2 linked regions of the Homo sapiens genome follow. The protein of the gene in region 1 interacts with the protein of each later gene in a pairwise test. Each region holds a gene or a part of one and is shown on either strand. Other genes may lie near its edges. The genes, in order: LATS2 and HGF.

Evidence for each region.
Region 2: the proteins of LATS2 (region 1) and HGF come close enough for resonance energy transfer, tested with the Homo sapiens proteins (one large-scale study listed by BioGRID).

Annotation. Positions count from the first base shown.
Region 1 is NC_000013.11:20,984,930-20,988,761, forward strand, and holds part of LATS2 (serine/threonine-protein kinase LATS2), read right to left. Parts: coding exon 2,952-3,832; intron 1-2,951. UniProt on the Homo sapiens protein: Negative regulator of YAP1 in the Hippo signaling pathway that plays a pivotal role in organ size control and tumor suppression by restricting proliferation and promoting apoptosis.
Region 2 is NC_000007.14:81,698,416-81,701,516, forward strand, and holds the end of HGF (hepatocyte growth factor isoform 1 preproprotein), read right to left. Parts: 3' UTR 595-3,101; downstream 1-594. UniProt on the Homo sapiens protein: Potent mitogen for mature parenchymal hepatocyte cells, seems to be a hepatotrophic factor, and acts as a growth factor for a broad spectrum of tissues and cell types.

The sequences.
Region 1 (3,832 bases):
TGCATGGTATTGGTATAAAAACAGACACATAGACCAATGGAACAGAATAGAGAACCCAGAAATAAGTCCACGTATTTACAGCCACCTGATTTTTGACAACGGTGCCAAGAATGTACACTGAAAAAGAGACATGCTGGGAAAACTAGATATCCATATGCAGAAGAATGAAACTAGACCCCAATCTCTCACCATATAGGAATGTCAACTTAAAACAGATTAAAGACCTAGAAATAAGACCAGAGGCTATGAAAATATACTCCAGGACATTGGTTTGAGCAAAGATTTTTATGGCTAAAATCTCAAAAGCACAGGCAAAAAAACCCCAAAGTAGACAAATGGGACTATATTAAGCTAAAAAGCTTCTGCAGAGCAAAGGAAACAACAGAGTAAAGAGGATACCTGTGTTGAACAGGAGAAAATATTCACAAACTATTCATCTGACAAAAGACTATTATTCAGAATATACAAGGAACTCAACTCAACAGCAAAAAAAATATCAAATAATCCCATTAAAAAGTAAGCCAAAAGGCCAGATATGGTGGCTCACGCCTGTAATCCCAGCACTTTGGGAGGCTGAGGCAGGCGGATTACTTGAGGTCAGGAGTTTGAGACCAGCCTGACTAACATGGTGAAACCCCGTCTCTACTAAACATACAAAAATTAGCTGAGCATGGTGTCGCACACCTGTAGTCCCAGCTCTCAGGAGGCTGAGGCAGGAGAATAGCTTGAATCCAGAAGGCAGAGGTTGCAGTGAGCCGAGATTTCACCACTGCACTCCAGCCTGGGCAATAGAGCAAGACTCCGTCTTAATTAAAAAATAAATAAATAAAATAAGGCCAGGCGCGGTGGCTCACACCTGTAATCCCAGCACCCTGGGAGGCTGAGACAGGTGGATCATCTGAGGTCGGAAGTTTGAGACCAGCCTGAACAACATGGTGAAACCCTGTCTCTACAAAAACATAAAACTAGCTGGGCGTGGTGGTGCATGCCTGTAATCCCAGCTGCTCGGTAGGCTGAGGCAGGAGAATCACTTGAACCCGGGAGGCGGAGGTTGTGGTGAGCTGAGATCGTGCCATTGCACTCCAGCCTGGGCAACAAGAGCGAAACTCTGTCTCAAAAAGAAAAAAAAGTGAGCTAATGACCTGAATAGACACTTGTCAAAAGAAGATACACAAATGGCTAAGAGGTGCATGGAAAGATGCTCATTAACCATCAGGGAAATGCAAATGAAAACCACAATGAGATATAATCTCTCCCCAGTTAGAACGACTATTATCAAAAAGGAAAAAAAAGAAACTAAAAATAGAACTACCATACAATCTACCAAACCCATTATTGGGTATTTATCTAAAGGAAAGGAAATCAGTATATCAAAGGGATACCTGCACCCCATGTTTATTGCAGCACTATTCACAACAGTAAAAACATGGAATCAACTGAAGTGTCCATCAACTGATGAACAGATAAAGAAAATGTGGTCTGTGTACACCATGGGATACTATTCAGCCATAAAAAAGAATGAAATCCTGTCATTTGGAGCAACATGAATGGAACTGGAGGTCATTATGTTAAGTGAAATAAGCCAGGAACAGAAGTTCGGTTAGAACACCACACACTGTTACTGATATGTGGGAGCTAAAATAATTGATCTCATAGAGGTAGAGAGTAGAATGATAGTTACCAGAGGTGGGAAAGGGTGTGTGTGTGTTGAGGGGAGATGAGAAGTTAATTGGTGCAAACATACAGCTGGATAGAAGGAACAAACTCTAACTAGTATGACTATGGTTAGTAAAAATGTATTCAATATTTCAAAATAGCTAGAAGAGAGGTCTTGAAATGCTTCCAACACAGAAATGATAAATACACCAGGCAATGGATACTCTAAATACCTTGACTTGATCATTACATATCCTATGCATGTAACAAAATATCACATGTTCCCCACAAATCTACAAATACTATGTATAAATAAAAAATAAACGGCTGGGTGTGGTGGCTCACACGTGTAATTCCAGCACTTGGGGAGGCCGAGGTGGGCAGATCACCTGAGGTCAAGAGTTCGAGACCAGTCTGACCAACATGGCGAAACCCCCGTCTCTACTAAAAACACAAAAAAATGGCCAGGCGTGGTGGTAGGCACCTGTAACCCCAACTACTCGGGAAGCTGAGGCAGGAGAATCGCTTGAACCCAGGAGGCAGAGGTTGCAGCGAGCCAAGATCGCGCCATTGCGCTCCAGCCTGGGTGACAGAGCAAGACTCCGTCTAAAAATAAATTAAAAAATAAAAAATAAAAATAAAAAAAACACAAATGAAAAGTATATCTGTAAAAAAATCAGTGAATACGGGACACTGAAAAGAACACAAATCTGGTTTTCAGGCTTTGGAATTATTGGCTTTGTGTGATTTAAATCTGTTACATTTTAATTTAAATAGTTTCATCAATAATTACCTTCTTCAGCACTTCAGTGTCAACTAAGGTATATTTAAATCATTAGTTACTAACTAAACACTTAAAAGAATAAATGGAATCACTACTAGATACATTTTTCTTCCAAAATCCCACAATCTCAATTTACAAAACCTTAAACTTTGTTTCTACTCATTCAAATGTTCTATTATTAATCCATGATGAATTTTGTTAAGCGAGGACATACCCTAAAACTTAATTTGCTAATTTACCTACAATGTAAATTGTAGATTACCTACATTACGCTGGCTACATTATGCACAGCTATCTCTGATTCTTCAGAAGAGTCAAGGGGAAAGGCGAAAGGGAGGTCACACCATTTGCAACTTCTCCAAGTTGTTGGCCCCAGAACCAGACTGTCGCCCATTAGCCGTTTTGATGATAAGGGGTATACAGTCGAAACAGAAAAGGGATTGTGCGTGCTTCCTATTGCCAGTAGAGGGATGAGCCGGGAACAAATAGTAAAAATGAAGTGTGAAATTACTTTGGCCATTTCTTGCTCCAGCTGCAGCCTCCGGTTAACCTTCTGCTGGTAGGTTTTGATGACATTCTCCACGTGCTGCTCCATGAAGAACTTAAAGGCGTATGGCGAGTAGCTCTTGATGCGTGACTCTCTCTTCTCTTCGTCTCTGCTGTTTTTGCGGACGGGAACGGGAGAGGTCTGAATCTGCTTTTTATCCTTTCCGCCTTTGTCCCCCTTGGCGCTTTTGCGGCTCTTGTCGCCGCCCTCGGGCTCGTTGGGGCCCGCACGGAGGCTCTGCTCCATGCCTGCGCACAGGCTGTCCAGGTCGTACTGCTCCGACTTGCTGCGCAGCAGCAGGTGCTTCGGGTAGGGCGGAGGCGGGCACCTCCGGTCTGGGCCTCCGTACTCCACGTCCAGCGGGAAGGCGCCTGCGCCGCCCAGCGCCAGGGCATGCTCCTCCTTGGCGTCCAAGCCCTCCGCAGCCGGGGCGGGGGCGGGGGCGGGGGCCGGGGCAGGCGCGGGCACCCAGGCGGGGTGCGAGGGCCCCACAGCCGTCTGCGGCTCCGGCCTCAGCACACGCACGCTCTTCACCGGGTGCAAGATGTGCGCGGCCGTGACAGCCGTCACGGTGTTGGGGGCGGGCAGGGAGGGCTCGGCCTTGCCAGGCGGACCGGGCCGCGGCTGGTGGCTGTTGAAGGAGTTGGTCCTGCTGGGCACTGGGCAGTCAGGCCGGAAGGCCACGTGCGCGCGCGGCGGCGCCTCCAGGCCCGGCTTCTGCAGGGAGTCCCGGCGGGCCAGGGTGGCAGCCGGCCACTGCTGGACGGAGGTGCTGCCCAATTCATACAGGTCCACGTTGAGGCTGTTCCGCGAGGGAGTGAGCAGGCTCTGCGGGGGGCTGTCGC
Region 2 (3,101 bases), on another chromosome or scaffold:
ATGCCAGAATAAATTAGTACAGCAACCTTTTGGGGGAAAAAGGCAGTAAAATACAATTTGAAATAATCAGTGGTGTTATAGAGCTCTCTTTGCTTAGATCATTGAGGACTAGTTCTTCCAATTTGAATTAAATGAATCCATTGGATTCTTATTTATTCTTAACTGAATGCACACTTTAAAGAGATACCCAAAGTGATTCATTAAATAATTTAAAATCACCTTTGTATTATATAGTGGCATGAGAAAGGAAATTAGGTGAAAATTCATGGGAATATTTTGTATATATTGGCAAATAACAACATAGCACCATTCTAGCAAATATGAAGAATAAACAAATAGTTACATTTTACGGTGGGAGAAACTAAAGTACATAGAGATTAATGGTTTACTGAAGACCAACTATATTGCTGTGGATATTAGTTGGAATAAAATAATGATTTTTGTCTTAGTTCTATAAACAAGTTGTATTATAGTTTTTGCAAGAACGTGTATGTAATTTTTGTCAGTGAAGTCAACATTGCTATTTTCTGCATTTAGGCCCTAAGACAGATATAAATATGTACATGTAAATAATCATAACAGAGAAAATAAGCATTTTGATAAAATATTTTATTAATAATAATAATATAATCATGGTTATAAAAATAACAACTTTATTAACTACAGAAAGTTTATAATACAAGTCATAACCACAGTGTTCCCTTTTTTGGGTAAGCATACAGCTATACCACTCAATAGGCAGCTTATTAATTTCCTATTTACATACAAGACAAACAGTCATAGCATCCACAGTATTTCATTTTCAGTTTCCTAAAGACAGAAACTTTCTGTGCAAATGGAAATGAACCTACTTAAAAGTTACACTGTCAAGATATATATGGTCCAAAAAATTTTAACTTTTTTTGTATTAGTAAATTCTTAGCTCCAACCTTAGTTGAATGTTGAATGATAACTTCTTTTTGGACTTTATCATGACAAGTGATTTATTTTAAAATTATGTATTTTAAAAACAAAGGCCATGTACTTTTACCAAAATTAGTTTTATTTTTTAAATGAGTTTGCCTATATGTATGGGATGTAATTAATTATAATAGTATTTTTTGAATCTCAATAAATTGATTTAAGGCTTTTTAGTATAAGATCTTATTAAAATTCTTTACCACATGATCTCTATATTGCAAAACCAGTATTTCTTTTAAAAAAGTTTAAAAACAACAATGAAATGCCTGACAGCAATTTCCCACTTCTTGACAGTGTTCTTTTCAAGAGAATGTTGTGGCTATAACATTCACTTTGTACAGTACCATTGGTACCAACAAGAAATATTCACAGGAATAAGTGAAATACAATTTTGCTATCACATGCCATTATTGTTAATTTTCTTGCCTTCCAGTGTCTCACACTTCCCATAATTTGAAACACTTAGATAGCAAGCAAAAGCCTGTTAATACTAGAAATTGACTCAATAGATTTTACTGAGGACCTGCCCACAGCATATAGGTAAAAGTCATTACACATTTTACAATAAAATTAAAGAAGTATACAAAAGGATTATCATTCCTTCTGCACGGCAGAGGCATTATGAAAAATATTTTAGTTTTACACTTCAATTCCTGGTAGACGTGAGAAAATGTCTACAATTATAACAGTACATAACCATTATTCAAACAGCCAAACCAAAAATTGCATTGAAACCTTCTGATTTAAAAGATCCTTTTGTCAATGACACAAAATAAAGTGGATTGTTGGATTTTTAAAAATGTTTAATGATTTATTCAGCAAAGAACACCTGGTAAATAGTGTCTTCCACCAGCAAATAATGACATGACTCTACCCTGTTCTACCACCTAAAATAACATGGACCTTGTTCATCTAAGTTTCATTGTCAATTCCACCCATGTCCCTCTATCACGAAAGGAGCCTCCCAAAGAGAGAATTACTTTGTACGGTTTGTTTGATGATTTATTGGTGGTATTGTTTTTAGCCTTTAATAAAATGAAAAATACTAGCCTCAAAATGTCTAAATACTTAGCTGTATCTTGTATCTAGCTAATCTTTATCTGTATTTCCAGGAAATTTAGAGGAAGAGTCATTAAAGAAGTATTTTTAAAATGTGAGTATTTAAAATTATGACAATTTTTATAAAAGTTTTACAAATATCATTAATATGCAATAATAAAATTTCACTGGTTCAGCCAGAAGAAACTATGAAATATACTTTATATTTTGGCAATATGCTCTTGAAATTTCTAGGAGTTCTTACTAAAATGGTGTATTATATAAGGAAAATAGAAATACCATCAGATAAGATGATAGAGACCAGCAACTAGTTGGATGTCTTTTTGCTTCCACTTTAAGTTTCTTGATGCCAGCACATATCTTATTATGAAAAAAAAATTGTATAAGCATTTCTGGACTCGCCGCCCTATATTCTGTGGACTAAGCTCTCCATAAACTTAAAACCATTTTAGTCCAGATTGAACAGTACTCTAAAGAGCTGGTAGGGAATTGTTTGGGGACTTGGCCTTGATAAAAATCACTCAAGAAAACTAAGTCAGAGAAATGGGACTACTGGATTCACACCATTCAAAAAATTATTTTTAAAGGTGTTTTGTACAGGAAGATTTCTGCAAAAATTCAAAGCCTATCCTATTACTTTTTGTTATTCTATTTCTCAACAAATACATGATCTTTAGCTAAGCATGACAAATACAATGATAAATATGATAATTTGGCTGTTATACAGAACACAAAATTTAAATGTCTGTTACATATGGCATTAGGAGTGAACTTTGTAAAATGAAATAAGAAAAAATAAACATATCTTGATAAAATATCTGATTCAACAGATTCCACTCTACTTCAAAAAAAAAATAAATGAATACAGAGTTGAGACAAACTAGTTTCTTTCCTTTTACAAGTTGTCTTTTACTTCAAAAAAGCTTTATTAGGCTAAAATCTTCCAGGTTGAGAAAAGTATTTTTATTTTTTTCTCCAATATATACTTTAATGCATGACTTGATGAAGGGTATTTATAAAACTTTGGAGACTTGGAAATTTTCCTCTTAAATTTTTTAAAATTTAAAGGCAGTGAGCTAGAA